Linked DNA regions of Homo sapiens: region 2 is linked to region 1. A link means that fine-mapping ties the variant in region 1 to the expression of a gene that starts in the linked region. Tissue or cell type: whole blood. Region 1 holds a variant in brackets; the other region holds the start of a gene. All regions are shown on one strand. Distances are between the middles of the regions.

Region 1 (8,260 bases):
CTAAAGAGACGATGTCGATTCATTCCCCCTGACCCCAGCAGGCATTAACTGAGCACCTGCTAGGAGCCAGCCCCTGCTAGGGGCCAGGCCCCAGGGAACACAAATACACAGAGAGAAGCAACAGCCAGGGAAACAAATTTCCGGAAGGATGCTGGAGAAGTAGGAGGCTACACCCATGAGAAATGGGTGATGTTCCCCTAGTGGAGTGTCCGTCTGTCTGTCTATCTGTCCGTCTGTCATCTGGAGGGGCAGGAGGGGCTAAGCCATTTCCCAGCCCCACCACCACCCAGCACAACCCAGGCTCTGGGACAGGAAGCCCCACCAGCCAGCAAGACCCATTCTCCACAGCCGGGCTTCAGCAGAGCCATGACCCGAGGTCTTCTCATCTCCAGCAGCTCTGCATTCGGTAACTGCCCTGCCACCTGCTGCCTTCTGGGTCAGAATCAGTTTTCTCCAACTCCGTCCACCAGTGGACAGCGCCCTCAGCTTCCTGACGCCCTGAACATTCCAGCTCTGGGGCCCATGCCTGATGGGGGAACGGTCTGACCACCACCCCACCCACTGCCTCTGCCATCCCAATGTGAATCTATGTTGCAGAGCTCTTGTCTCAGTTATTAATAACCATAGTAATAGTCTTTATTTCAAAGCACTCACTAAGGGTCAAGTCCATACTAAGCTGGTACCCGCCTCAATTATTTTATCCTCAGAGCCACCTTGGAGGCAGGAACAATAAGTATCTCCACTGGAAAGATGAAGAGACTGAAGTTCAGAGAGTAAGTGGTGGGTAGCCAGATTTCAGCCCAGGCCTGCATGGCTCCAAAGCCCCCTGCCCCACTGAGGGGCAGAGCAGGTGCACTGCAGACAGGGACTTTCCTGAGGCCCTGATCGCAATGGGGAGAAGGCCTACTTTCCCCAGCATGTCCCAGAATGATGCCTGAAGATCCTCAGGCCCAGAGGCCAGGAGCTCTTTTTTGCATTGCTTTTCAAGGGGGAGGTGTATGGCCTTGGTCAAGTGGCTTTCACCTGTCTGAGCCTCAGTTGCATCACCAGTACCAAGGAAGGTGATAACACCTCCTTTCCAGGTGCCTTTTCCTAGCTGGGATCTTCACTCATCTCTGAACCCCCTCACAGAATCCACGTCAGATAAAGTGGCTGTGGGAGCCAGGAGAGACCCAGCAGAGACGATGGGTCCACCTGAGCCACTGCCTCCCTCTGCCTGAAAGCCCAGTGATCCCTTCTGCTTCACTCTGAGGCCCTTGCAGTTTTCAGCAGGACAAAGAAAAACTGTGCTTTGAGTTAAGACACTTGAAAAAAAGTTCATTTGCACAGGGAGTCTCAGGGACTCCTAGCCATGCATCCCAATACCTGCATCCCAAGGGTAGGAACACAGCTGTAAGTTCTGGGTTCAGAGCCTCACACCATGCTGGGGAGAGCGGAGAGCCGGGGCCTCTTCTCAGGGACCTCACAGGCCTTTGTCATCACAGCTGTGTTTATCAAGCATCTTCCATGTGTTCGGACCCCCTCGTTTAATCTCACAGCCACCTCAAGGGTACGTGCGATTATCTCCATTGTACAGATGAAAAAACTGAGTCTCAGTGGCAGTGAACCAAGGAAAGCAATAGCCCAACCAGGATTGGAACCCAGATTGTTTATTCCAGGGTCATTGTTCTTCCCCACAGCTCCATGCCCGACCAGCCTGAGACAACCACCAAGTCCTGACCAGCTCCTTCCACAATCCCTATGGGGGAGCAAATACCTGTCACTTCAGTGGAGTAAAAAGAGGACCAATTTTAGAGTCCCACAGAGCTTAGTTCTGAAAGACAATACCAGAAACACAAGCACCAAAAGAGAAACACGGGTGTGTTGGACTTCCACCAAAACTTAAAACTTTTGTGCTGCAAACAAAACCATATAGTAAAAAGACCCTCCATAGAACGGGAGAAAATATTCCCGATTCTTATATCAGATAACTGATTTGTATCCAGAATATATAAAGAATGCTTACAATTCAACAATCAAAAGACAACCCAACTTTTTTTTCTTCAGACGGAATCTCACTCTGTCGCCCAGGCTGGAGTGCAATGGCGCAATCCTGGCTTACTGCAACCTCCACCTCCAGGGCTCACGTGATTCTCCTGCCTCAGCCTCCCGAGTAGCTAGGATTACAGGCATGTCCCACCGTTCCCAGCTAATTTTTGTATTTTTAGTAGAGATGGGGTTTCACCGTGTTGCCTAGGCTGGTCTTGAACTCCTGACCTCAGGTGATCCGCCCACCTTGGCCTCCCAAAGTGCTGGGATTACAGGTGTGAGCCACCGCACCTGGCCAATCAACCCATTTTTTAAAAAATGAGCAAAGGATATGAATAAGTATTTCTCTCCAAAGAAGATATACGAATGGCCAGTAAGCAAATGAAAAGATGTCTGACATCCTTGGTCATCAGGGAAGTGCAACTCAAAACCACGATGAGATACACTTCCTACCCCCTAGGGTGGCTAGAATCAAAAAGGCAGATAGTAGCAAGTGTTGACAAGGATGCAGAGAAACCCAAATCCTCATACACTGCTGGTGGGAATGTAAAATGGTATAGCCACTCTGAAAACAGTCTGGCAGATATTTGAGCAGTTAAATATCATGTTACCATACGATCTGGCAGTTTCACTGCAAGGAAATTGAAAATATCTATCCGCATAAAACCTTTTCACAGCATTATTCATAGTAGCCAAAAAGTGGAAACAATGAGCAAATGAATCAATAAAATGTGGTATATCCATACAATGGAATATTATTCTGCAATAAAAAGGAATGAAGTACTAATGCACATTGCAACATGGGTGAACCTTGAAATTATACTAAGTGAAATAGGCCAGGCACAGAAGGCCACATGTTACATGATTTCGTTTGTATGAAATGTCGAGAATCTACACAGATAGAGAGTAGATTAATGATTGACAAGGGCTGGAGGGATTGCTAACAGATAGAAGATTTCTTTGGGAGAATTTACTAAAATGCTGTAAAATTGAATTGTGGTGATGGTTGCAGAACTATGTGAACATACAAAAAAAAATTGAAATGTATACTTTACATGTGTGAATTCTATGGTATGAGAAGTCTAGTCTCAACAAAGCTGTAAGAAAAAAAAATTCCAACTCTATCAAACCCCAGAGCTGTGTGTTCTTAGAATAAAGGTTTCCCAGCTTCAAGTCTCAGTTTCCTCCTCTGCAGGATGGGCTAATAAGCCACATCACCTTGCATGAAAATCAAGGAGACAGCACAGCTGGGGCCCAGCACGTAGTAGGCCTCACTCCGCACGAGGTTCCTTCCGCAGAGGGGAAGGGAATGGGGGTTGCCCAAGTAGGGCGCACGGCCAAGGCCATGGCTGGTCCTGGACGGCCAGACGGACTGGACGGAGGAGGAGGCTCACCGCCCATGACATAATGTAGATGGATGGCTCGGGCCATCCGTCAGGCTGGGAGCGGGTGGCCGGGGAGGAGGCCGTGAGGGAGCCCATTACCGTACACGTGTTAACAGCGCATCCTTTGTACAGACAGCCGCGCGGGCGCGGGCCAGGGCCGCTCCCCACATTGTCTGGGCGCCGCGGCCGCGCGGTGATGAATGGGCCGCGCGCGCCCGGCCGCCCCCGCCGCCGTCAGGATACCACGGGCAGAGGGCGACACCTCGTGGCTGTTTACAGAACTGCGGGCTACCAGGCGGGCACAGAGGGCGCAGGTGGGCCCCCCGCGACTTGCCTTTAGTGGGAAGCTCAAGATACTCTGTGTATAACACTTAGCACAGAGCCTGGTGCGTCGTAGGCCCTCAAGAAATCCAGATCATAATTACAACCACCTTTATTTTCAAGGAAAAAAAAAAAACAGGCTAAATGAGGTTCAGAAACGGGGTGAGGGCCAGGCGCGGTGGCTCGCGCCTTGTAATCTCAACAATTTGGGAGGCCAAGGCGGACGAATCACACCTGAGGTCAGGAGTTCGAGACCAGCCTGGCCAGCATGGTGAAATCTCATCTCTATTAAAATACAAAAATTAGCCGGGCTTGGTGGCGGGCGCCTGCAATCCCAGCTACTTGGGAGGCTGAGGCAGGAGAATCGCTTGAACCCGGGAGGCGGAGGTTCCAGTGAGCCGAGATTATGCCACTGCACTCTAGCCTGGGCGACACAGCCAGACTTCATCTTAAAGAAAAAAAGAAAGAAAGAAAAGAAACGAAAGGAAATGGGGTGAGGTTACCAAAAACTGGGTAGCAAATAATTTTTTAGTATATCAAAGATCTCTAGGGGATAGATTTATCTTTTTTAAAAAAAATCACTCATTATTCATCTGAAATTCACTTTTAACTGGGAATGCTGTGTTTTTGCGCTTGTGTTTGCAAACCTGGCGACCCGATAACTGGGTGCCTTTGGACACAGCATTCCACCTCTCTGCTTCTGTAAAATAAGAGAAGCAAGACTCTATCCCTACACGTTTACAACAATAACTACAGGACTGTTGTGCAGATTAAGTGAGAGGATACAGGTAGTGAATATAAAGCCGGTCAGGGTTAAAGTTGCCATGTCCCTGATCACACCTATTTGCAGAGTTTAGGAAAGAAAAGGAGTCCAATAGCCACTAAGTTTAATGTGACTCCAGGCCTTTGTATGCTCTGTGTCCTGCTCCTGGATGACCCTCCCCTCTCTAATGACTCCTGAAGGTTCTCTCTGACGCTCTTCTTCCCAAATCGTAATCCCAACACACATTTC[C/T]TTGGAGCTCTCATCTATTTCATCTCAGACCCCTGCCTCTACCTGTCTTCTACCTGCAGGGAGAGGCAGCGTATTACTCCTTACCTGGCCTGCCTGGCACATACGAGACATTCAACTAACATTTGTGGAATGGGTGAATGTAGACATGGCTCAAGGCTCAGAGAAGAATACCTTATATCATGTGGCGTGGCAATGCCAGAAGGTAAGACCATGAGGGTGGGCTCTGCCCTGTTCCCCTGCTATAGCCCCAGCATCTAGTAGGCACCTAACAAAATTGGTTTACTTTAATGCAAACTGCTAACCTGACTGAGCTCTGTGTCTAATGCGCTGTGCCAAACATTTAATTATTTAAAACTTTTTATTTCCATAGGTTATTGGGGAACAGGTGGTGTTTGGTAACATGAGTAAGTTCTTTAGTGGTGAGCTGTGAGATTTTGATGCACCCATCACCCAAGCAGTATACACTGCACCCAATTTGTAGTCTTTTTTTTTTTTTTTTTTGAGACAGAGTCTCACTGTCGCCAGGCTGGAGTGCAGTGGCACCATCTCGGCTCACTACAACATCCGCGTCCCGGGTTCAAGTGATTCTCCTGCCTCAGCCTCCCAAGTACCTGGGACTGCAGGTGTGCACCACCACCCCCAGCTAATTTTTGTATGTTTAGTAGAGACGGGGTTTCACCATCTTAGCCAGATGGTCTCAATCTCTTGACCTCGTGATCCACCTGCCTCGGCCTCCCAAAGTGCTGGGATTACAGGCATGAGCCACTGCACCCGGCCCAATTTGTAGTCTTTTATCCCTCACCTCCCTCCCACCCTTTCCCGCTGAGTCTCCAAACTCCACGGTGTCATCCTTATGCTTCTGCATCCTCATAGCTTAGCTCCCACTTATGAGTGAGAACATACGACGTCATGCCAAATACTTTAAATATTTTCTCAACTATTAACTTTTCACAATGATGCAGGGAAGTGGTTACTATTATTGTGCCCACTGTACAGATAAGGAAGCTAAGGCACAGCAAGCTGGAGCCTTTGCCCAAGATGATGTAGATGTATGTGGAGGAATCGCACCTGAACCACAGCAGCTGGATCCGGTGCCCACCCTGAAGTTACTCAAGGACTTCAGAGACAGACCTTGACATGAACACGGTTTCCAACCTTCTCCAGTGAATGACCTCAGCAAATCTCTTCTCTCTGAGTTCCAATTCCCTCCATTCCTAAAGTGGAGAGAATGAAATTTCCAACCACACAAGATGGTGGTAAAGAACAGAAACTGTTCATGGAAAATGCACACAGCAGGTGCTCAATAACTGATGGTCTTCCTGGAAAATGCACACAGCAGGTGCTCAATAACTGATGGTCTTCCTGGTGATCACCGAAGCCCTGAGAAAGCAGCTTCTTAGGGCCACCATTTGCAAAACAGCACTTTGTGGTTGCTAATTCCTCATAGAGAGAAAAATAGCTGGAGAGATTTCCATTAAGATTTTCTCCAGAAATCAGTGCCCCTGGCAAGCTGCAGGGCTGAGGAGTGCCTCTAAGGTACCTGGAGTTCCAGTCCACAGGTGGAGGCTGGGGGAAAGGGAGGGAGGAGTAAGGCAGGGATGTCTTCAGGGCCCCGGCTGAGTCCCCTCCCCACCTCCACGCAAAGGACAGAGGAAGTGGGATGAAATCGGGGGCACTTTGGGGGCTTGAGGCACAGTGGGGTGACATTCTGTCTGAATCAGTATTCCTTTTGCCCTGATCCTGCACCACGACCAGCCAATTTCTGTCAATTTACTCTTCCTACCTAAAATTTCACTGGTTTCTTACCTCATTCATTCTTTATTCATGCATTTATTCAATAAATTTCAGTTGGGTATCTGCTATGTGCCGGCACCATTCATTCTTGGCACTAAGGATCCAGTGATAAACAGACTTGGTTTTTGCCCTTCATGGGGCTCACAGACTAAGGTGGGGGCAGGCAGGGGGTATGGAACAGACACTAAAGATATAATAATTAGATCGGAGTGACAGGAAAGCCGAGGGGGCTGCGAGCACTCAGGAGATCAAGGAAGTCTTCCTGGAGGAGGTGACATTTAGGTGGAGATGAGGAGAATGAGTGGGGGGTGAGTCATCCAGGGGAGTGGGGCAGAACACTCCAGAGAGAAGGGGTTGGTAGGCAAAGGTCCCAGAGTGAGACTGAGGACCTGCAGGGGATGAAGTGAGCATGTGCCAGCACAGGGAGAGATGAGGCTGCTGAGGGAAGCAGGGCCAAGGTGGATCTTGAAGCCCTAGTGAGGATTTATGGCTTTTGCAAGGGTATTGGGGAGCCACCGAGGGTTTTATGCAAGTGGAGTGGCATCATCAGATTTCCAGCAGCATTAAATACAAACTCTTCTCCCATCTGCCCCCTCCTGGCTAGTATCGCTCCTCTCATGCCCTCTACTCCCCTTAACCAGGCTCCTCCTGAATCCCCAATGTTACGCTAACCTGGCTACATCTTCCGCCTGGACATGCGCATCTTGGGCTGCACCAGGGCACAACGAAACAAGCCCCAGGTTTGGATCAAACAGACCCAGCTTCAAACCTGGCCTCTTTGGCCTCTGGACCACCTGGATCAGGTCCCTAATGTCTCTGAGCCCCAGTTTGCTCATCTGTAAAATGGAGATCATCACTGTCCACCACTAACAGTGTCCTGAAAGGACCTGGCTCTGACACTTACTGTTTTCTTTCATCTGTTCCAGAAGCATGCCACCTCCTCCAGGCAGCCCCCCACCCTTCACTCCTCCAGCCCTCTGAACACCAGAAGCACTTCCTGTTTGCCCCTGCCCCCGGGTAACATGCATAGAACATAGCTGTTAAGAGGTGCATCCCTCCAGCAATCAGAAACCATTTGGGGTCAGAGCCCAACGGGTCTTTCCCAGCAGATCCTGGGAGTCTGTCTGCCCAGGGACAGGACAACTCCTTAAAGCAGGAGAGAGATGGACAGACAGACAGAAGGGCTCTGGGGAGCTAAGTGAGGTCCCAGGGAGTGTCGAGACTCCATGTGCTCATTTTCTGGGGTGGATCAGGATCTGGGAAATCACTCGGAAAGCTGCACCTCTTAGGCCAGACTGATAAACAGGCTGCCAACTTACAGTGGGGAGCACGATCTCCCGCTGTGACTGCATCCCCCAGATGGTGGCTGAAGGGCTCAGGCCTCAGCAAGTGATGGAATGGGGTGCCTCAGGCAGGAGAGGAACTGCACCCGGCCCCACCCCAGCAGAAGGGTCCCACATGTCCACCATTCCTGCTCTCAGGAAGCCAGGGTTCCCACCCCTACCCCCAACAGTCTCCCACTGACACCTCAGATGCCCACCTTCCTGCATCTCAGCAGTCCTGGGCAGCCAGGAAGAGACGCTGGCTTTTGGGCTTGCATGACACAGGGTTGGGGGGGTGGGTCAGGATAAGTCCTGGGGCTCTGGGGGGCCCTCGGACACAGAATGCAGAGGGCTGGGCAACATAGTGTCCCCCACACTGGTCACCTCTCCCAGGTCTC
Region 2 (8,000 bases), 330 kb after region 1:
TCCACATCATGTTTCTGTGCGTCCCGGGAGAAATAGGGCGTGGTGGGCAGGTCGGGCAGGAAGAAGACCTCGGGCTTCTGGATGGAGGGCCGGCTGTTGAGGTACCGGCCCTGCTCGCGGATGCCCTTGTGGATGCGGCCCATGCCGGACCAGGAGTAGCGCTTGGCGTACTCCTGCAGGTTGTGGTACAGCTTCTGGTTGAGGCCCTCGTTGTGGGTGCAGCGCACGCACTCAGGGGACTGGCAGTACACGTAGCCATTCTGCAGCCCGTTGGCATCGGCAGCCTGCATGAGGGAGTTGACGGAGACGTAGGGCCGGGGCTGCTCCCTGCCCACGTGATAACAGTACCACACGAAGAGGACCAGGAGGCAGGCCACAGTGATGACAGCGGTGGTGTCGCAGTCCCGCACGGACTGGATGCCGGTGGCGATGCAGTCCCTCAGGCCATCCAGCGACCAGCTCCAGGCCACCAGCCACTCGAGCGACATCTTGGGGGAGTCCTTACTGGGCGTGTGAAGCAAGGTCAGACAATCAGTCCTCGGGGGTCCCAAGGGCGCCCACACCATGCAGATTAGCGTGGGGGGGAAGGAGCGGCTGGGGCAGGGGGAGGCATGGCTGCCACCGATCCTCAGATACTGCCAGGGGCGGCATTGATGAACGACAAGGTTGGCCGTGCCCACTGCTCCACTTTCCGGCAAAAGTCACTGCAGTGGGGTGGAAGAGGCTGGTTTTTGTCACATTATCAAGTGCCGTCGGTCCCTGTGAAAGGATTTGTTTAGGAAAACCAAACCTGGGATGGAAAAAAAAAATCAGCATAAATTTTACACCTGGAAAAGTCCTCAACTGAAATGTAAAGTGTTAGATCGTTCTGTAGGATCCTAGTTGGTGGGGGTCACACTTTGCAATCTTGTGTATTCCCTCCCCATTCTACTGCCACTCCCATTTCCCAAAAGGCCAGTAGTATTTCATCTGCATCAGGTACTGCTTATAATTACAGTGGTCCCATCTGCTTTGTGCCCTCCATAGGAGGTGCTATTATCCCCATTTTACAGATGAGAAAACTGAGGCTCAGAGAAGTTACATAACTCACGAGAGTTATACAGCCAGGGCAGAGACTCAAACCCCATCTGACTTCAAGGCCCATGTCTACCCATTTTGCTGTGCTATTTCATCATAGGTATTTAATCAATGCTTATACTCCTGTGATCGCTGTACCTTTAATTCAAAAGAATCCTGGATTCAAAAGCATCTTAAAAATGGCAAAGGGACTTAAAAACTGCATATTCTCCATTTCACTTTCTCTTTGCAAGCATTTCATCATCCTTATTTCATTCTGTTGCCCTTCTGACAGAGGTTGGGCTAATACCAAGTTGGAAGAGGAAGTAGGCACTCTTGAGGTCATGCCTGCGGCAAAGGGCATTTTCTGTCTACCCACCTGGAGACTACCTATGGTCTCACCCATAGGGTCATGAAAGGAAAATGAGGGAGGTAGAATGAAAATAAAAGCCCTTCCAGGCCTCTGCCTCAGTTTCCCACAGCTGACAGCATCTCCAAAACAGCCAGAAGTGCTTTGCCACTTACCTAGCTGGGGGTTAGGGACAGAGCCCGGAACTCTCATTGTCCTAATAACCTAAAAGGGCCTGAATGTCATGCTGCCTAAGTCTCTCAAACCCCAGCCGTGTTTCCCAGCATTCTCCAAAACCTTTTGTTCATCCTGCTTCTTCTAATACAATGAGAACAGCCAGGTCTCTGCTTCTACAAGTCTGATACTCAGGGAGCACAATTTCAAATATCCCTTTTGTACTCTACCCTCTCACAGCTTAAAAAATGGAAAAGTTGTACCCTCCCTTTACCCAGGGACTGAAATTTGGCCTGAAAATTCTTGCAGCATCGTAGCAGAGAGAAGCCAGATTAGAGATGGGCCCAGTTGAGGATTCATCCCAACCTTGGGCAGATCGCTTTTCCTAAGCCTGTTTCTTTTCTTTTGAGACGGAGTTTCACTCTTATCGCCCAGGCTGGGGTGCAATGGTGCAATCTTGGCTCACCACAACCTCCACCTTCCAGGTTCAAGTGATTCTCCTATCTCAGCCTCCTGAGTAGCTGGGATTACAGGCATGCGCCATCACACCCAGCTAATTTTGTATTTTTAGTAGAGATGGGGTTTTTCCATGTTGGTCAGGCTGGTCTTGAAATCCCAATCTCAGGTGATCCGTCCACCTCAGCCTCCCAAAGTGTTGGGATTACAGGCGTGAGCCACTGCGCCTGGCTGCCTCAGTTTCTTTATCCATGAAATGGGGTTCGTGTTCATCTCACTGGATGAAGATGAATGATGGCGGATGGACAGCACTTACGACCACGTCATAATGAGCACCCAATATATGCAGGCGACGGCTAGGATGGGTGGCATCCCATAATGAGTAGCCAGCGTTCCAAAGGTGGGGCACGAGAGAAAGGTATAGCAAGACTCGGAATTCCAACAGTTAAAGGTAAATCCTGGACACTCTTGTTGCCTCATGTATTGAGTGGCTTTTTTGTCCCCAGACTTGCTAAGCTAAAAATGAAAGGGAAACCTTAGGTGCTCATTAACTGCCTACTTGCTTTTTCCCAGTTTCGGTTGAATAATCACTTGACTATAATGTTTAGTAAGTCAAAAACACACATGCTGAATATTCATGGAAATTTTTTATGTTTCTAGGAAAAATACAAGAGTGGGGAGGTTAGAAGCTAAGTTGTTTTTTGTTTTCTTTTGTTTTTTTTTTTTTTTCTTTCCCACACATTCTCAATTTCTTCTCAGATTCAGGAGAAGAGGAAAAGGCTATGACTCACTGGAGGTTAAGAAACCCCTTCAGCCCCCTGTTTCTCTCCTTGTTAGACCATAAACTGGCAGCTGTTACTCTTTAGGAAAAGGAAAGAAAATCCAGATGAAAGATGTTTTGTTTGCAAGCCATCTCCCAAACAGAACCTCAGAGTTCCTGAAATTCAGTGTGAAACAATCATCTATGTGACACCAAGCACTTTTACTAAAAGGATTTCCCCCATCACTGAGCTAAACCCCTACTGGAACTTTTCAACTGAGTCTGTCAGGAGGAAAGGTTTTTTTCTTAAATGTTCTAAGAGTGAGACGGTGATAATTTAACAAGCACCTGTAAAGTGTTAGTTCCCATCAGCCCTGCTGATCACTTAAGTCAAGCAAAATGCAGACACAGAAAACAGGGTGGATGATGGAGAAACCTCTCCACTGGACACCCCAGCCCTGTACTCTTCTCAGGAAAGCCTCCTTCTGTACTAAGCCAGCCATGAGCCCTCCCTAAGGCTGAGCTGTAAGCAAAAGAATGTAAAAGATTCTGAACCCCAGCTTCAGACCCTCCTCCCGAGATCATAAATAGCACTGAGAGCTCAAGTTAGGACTTTTCATACCTGTCAGTCACTTTTAGCCAAAATATGCCAACAGGCCCCTGCACCCGGAGGTGGATTTACAAGCTCAAAGCTGAACTATGACAATAAAAGAAACACATTTGCAGAGTGACTGGCAGTTTATTAAGCACTGCTTCAAACATTTGATCCTCACAGCTACCTAGTGACAACTCCCCATCTACCCAGTGGGGAGAGGAGAGACTCTCTCCCCCGACAGCTCCTTGCCCAGTGACCACAGTAGCTTCCAGCTTCCTTCGCACATCTGTTCATTGTCATCTGTGTTATTTCTGTCCTCATCAGGGATGGGGACATCTCATTGCAGCTCTGCACTTTAATAATAAGCAACCCCAGATCTTCCAGCTCAGTTGGCTCTGGGGAATTGAGTCCAAATCCATGGCCAGTTGGAGAGCAAGTCCAATCCAAGACAACTTCTCACACCATGAACACCTGGGAGAGCCGGTGTCAGGCCTGACCTGGTCAGCCTAGTTCAGATGTCCATTCCCAGAGGCTGCCTAATGCCAAAGAGTGTCTGCTCACCCTCAGGATGAGGCCAAGTCACCCTGGAAGCCCCCCAGTGAGCAGCACTGGGCAAGGTGTGTGATGCCTGTCACCCTCTCCACTCAGGAGCCAGAGAGATGCCGTGGGGCCAGCCCTTCCCGGTGCAGACCTGGGGACCTTCCCTCTCTTGGCCAGCTTCTCAGCACCCACCTGCCCTGGAGAGTGGGAAAGAGGGGAGGGCTGAAGATGGGTTAGCACAGATGGTGACCACCAGGAGGTCAGGGGAGGAGGGGGATGGGACGATGGAAAGGTGAGTGTTGCCCGGAAAAGTGGACGATCAGCTCAAGATTGTGGAAGGAGGTTTATGGCGCCTCATAATTCGTGGGACAGGGGAGGAGGGTCACCACGTGAAATATGGGAAGTGGGTGATGCTGAGGGCTGGGGGAGGGGACAGGAGGTGAGGAAAGAGGGGTCACAGGGGAGAAGGGAGATGGAGGAAGGGACCACGATGGGGCAGGGAAGAGGAGTAGGAGGAGGTCTAGGGAGGGTGATGCCCGGCTCCGAGGCGGCGGCGCTTAGCACGTACGAGCACTGGCCTCGGCCGGGCCGGGATGCGGGCGCCCGGGTCCCGGAGCATCCTCGGCGGGGGCGGCGGCGGCGGCGGCGCCGGTAAGGGAGGGCCGTGGGCCTGCAGCTGCCGGGCTCCCGCCTCCAACCCCTGTCCTGGGGTCGGCCCAGCCGCGCCGCCCTCCCGCCCCGGCAGCCCCCGGAGACGAAGCTTACCTGCGCCCGGGCGCGCGGACGGCTGCCGGGACCCAGGAGACGCCGCCGCCCGAGGGCGCGGACCCGCGGACGGCCCCTGCCCGGCGCCGCGGAGCCGCCGCCTGGCTGCTGCCCAGCCCACGCCGCGGGAGCCCGAGCCGGAGCCCGAGCCCGAGCCTAAGCCGCGCCGGTGCCCCTGCCGGTGCCGACGCCGCGCTGCGCTCCGCGGGGCCGCGAAGACCACAACTCCCACAATGCCGCGCGCGCTGGGCCGCCGGGGGAGGGGGTACGGGGGGGCGGGGCCTGCGGGGCGGGGCCGGGGACCCCCCTGCACCCGGCACCTGCGCTCGCAGTGCGGGAGGCGACCCGAGGCCGCGCCCGCCGCCGCTCCGGAGGGTCCTGGCAGTGCGCCCCGAGACGCAGCGCCCGCCCAGCCCGAGGTTGCGCGCAGGCGGCGACGGGCGTGCAGTCATTCATTAAGAAAGGCTCGCGTCGCTTCCTTCGCTCTTTCGTTTTTCGCTCTGTGTCTTTCTCAGTTCTCCCTCCCTCTGTCTCTCTGTTCCTCTCTGAGTCGCCCTCGTCTCCATTTCCTCCTTTTCATTCTCTTTCACTTCCCCCCCACCTCACTTCCTCTCGCCCTAACGCCTTCTTTCCTTTATTGATGGACTCAACACGGACTTCTGAGGCCCTCAGGCACTTGGAATGGAACCGCAAATCAAACCAGATTCTTAGTCTCATGGAAAACTCATTCGCTCAGTACAGTAATGATGGGCCAGCCTGGGTCCCCGTCCCTGCCAGCTGCGCTGAGCGTGCGCGGTGAGCGCTCAGGCCCGCCCTGCCCTCAGTGAGCCACCGTCTAGCGGGAGGGGACCCTCACCCCCGGGTAGGGTTTAGGAGGGGAAGTACAGGCAGGACGGTTGTCTGACCAGGGGACTGATGAGCTGCGAATGGAGGCCCCAAGGAGGCTGCTTGGAGGAGGTGACGTTTGAGCTAAGACCTGGGGGAGACTAACAGTGGCTACGGGATGTGTTAGGGGCGCCAGGGAAACTGCATGGGTGGGTTCTGGGAGCATAGAGTAGGATGGCCCGCCCACAATCCATCTGTCTCTGTCCCAGACCCACCTCTCTTGTGTCCCAGAATTTATCTCTAACATGGCCCAGAAGCCACCTCATGTCTGTCCCAGAATCCATTTCTCATCCCTATTCCAGAAGCCACCTTCACCCTGTTCCAGAACGTACCTCCTTCCTGTTCCAGAACCCACCTCCCTCCCTGTCCCAGGACCCACCTCCACCCTGTGCCAGAACTCACCTCCTTCCTGTTACAGAACCCACCTCCTCCCTCTTCCAGAACCCACCTCCTCCCTCTTCCAGAGCCCACCTCCTCCCTCTTCCAGAACCTACCTTCTTTCTGTCCCAGGACCCACTTCCACCCTGTCCCAGGACCCACCTCCTCCCTGTCCCAGGACCCACCTCCACCCTGTCCCAGAGCCCACCTCCTCCCTATTCCAGAAGCCACCTTCACCCTGTTCCAGAACATACCTCCTTCCTGTTCCAGAACCCACCTACTCCCTGTCCCAGGACCCACCTTCACCCTGTGCCAGAACCTACCTCCTTCCTGCTACAGAACCCACCTCCTCTCTCTTCTAGAACCCACCTCCTCCCTCTTCCAGAACCCACCTCCTCCCTCTTCCAGAACGCACCTCCTCCCTCTTCCAGAACGCACTTCCTCCCTGTCCCAGGACCCACCTCCTCCCTGTCCCAGGACCCACCTCCACCCTGTGCCAGAACCCACCTCCTCCCTGTTCCAGGACCCACCCCCTCTCTGTTCCAGAACTCACCTCCACCCTGTTCCAGAACTCACCTCCTCCCTGTCCCAGGACCCACCTCCTCCCTGTCCCAGGACCCACCTCCACCCTGTGCCAGAACCCACCTCCTCCCTGTTCCAGGACCCACCCCCTCTCTGTTCCAGAACTCACCTCCACCCTGTTCCAGAACTCACCTCCTCCCTGTCCCAGGACCCACCTCCTCCCTGTCCCAGGACCCACCTCCACCCTGTGCCAGAACCCACCTCCTCCCTGTTCCAGGACCCACCCCCTCTCTGTTCCAGAACTCACTTCCACCCTGTTCCAGAACTCACCTCCTCCCTGTTCCAAGACCCACCTCCACCCTGTCCCAGTACCCACCTCCTCCCTGTTCCAGAAGCCACCTTCACCCTGTTCCAGAATGTACCTCCTCCCTGTCCCAGAGCCCACCTCCACCATGTCCCAGAACCCACCTCTCATCTCTGTCCCAAAATCCACCTGGTCCCTGACCTAAGAATCTGCCTCTACTGTGATAGCCTAAAATCCACCTCCTCCCTGTTCCAGAACCCAGTTTGTCATGTCCCAGAACCCACTTCTTCCATGTCCCAGAGTACACCTCTCCCATGTCCCAGAATACACCTCTTCCATGTCTTAGACTCTTCTTCATCTCTGTCATTTCTCTCCTTTTCTCAACTCCAAAAGAGGAAGAATGTTTTTTCTCTTTTATTCTACTAAAATAAACCAAAACACTTGCATTGGGAAACCATAATATGCACAGATTTGCTCAAAGTGTGGATAATCAACACAGGCATCAGATTTAGAAACATTAAATGGGATGTCTGTCTTCACTGTCAGCCTAAGAGTGGTTGAGCCTGGGTGGGGTGGAGAAAATGGAGTGGGGGGTATTTGACTCATCTCACATTCAGAAAGTTGCTCAAACTTAGAATTCTCCAAAGGCAGTCATACATTCTATCACAGCATTATCCTGGCAGGTTTGAAAAAAAAAAGATATTTTTATATTGTAAATATGTGTTCCATTCCTGCACCATCTTATCTGTACTGTATTATGAATTAATATTGTCTATCAATCCTATAAGTGTCCTTGACCAGTGCAATTATATGATATCTGTAGACCACTGCTCTGCATTTGTTAGTATTTATTTGTTCAATGGCAATATTACTATACACGCAATTTTGTTAGCCCTGCTTACCATTTCTTCATCTTTTTAATTAGCTGGGAGTCTCAATAAATGGAAATGACCTGGGCCTCTGTCAACCCCTTGGAGACCCTACTAGGTGAATTCTGCAGAAAAGGATATCCATGCCTTTCAGAGGGGGATTTTGGGTGAGAGCTCCAGATAAATTGTTACTGTGCTCATGGAGAGGCGGAGAGGAGGACCAAGGGCATCTGAATTGCCTGCCTTCAGCTTGGCTGCCACCTGCATCCTCCTGCTCTCGCTGCCTTCTTTAGCGCAGTCATCCTACCCACTCCGAGACTACACAACCTATCATTACACCGTCTCAT

The links. PIP is the estimated chance that this variant, and not a neighbour inherited with it, causes the effect.
Region 2: ASPHD2 starts here. The variant in region 1 is fine-mapped to the expression of ASPHD2 in whole blood (INTERVAL, PIP above 0.99).

The regions. Positions count from the first base shown.
Region 1 is chr22:26,752,216-26,760,475 of GRCh38, reverse strand. All of the region lies in intron 2 of MIATNB (MIAT neighbor), which reads right to left. Among named protein-coding and RNA genes, the nearest start is that of MIATNB, 84 kb to the right of the region's middle. RefSeq lists enhancers at 6,468-7,465, 7,466-8,260. The variant C/T (reference allele first, on the strand shown) is at 4,747.
Region 2 is chr22:26,426,182-26,434,181 of GRCh38, reverse strand. It overlaps ASPHD2 (aspartate beta-hydroxylase domain containing 2), which reads right to left and starts at 4,922. Exons shown (of 4, transcript NM_020437.5): 1 at 4,696-4,922; 2 at 1-790. The coding sequence starts at 566. RefSeq lists silencers at 2,745-3,039, 4,772-4,831, 4,952-5,081.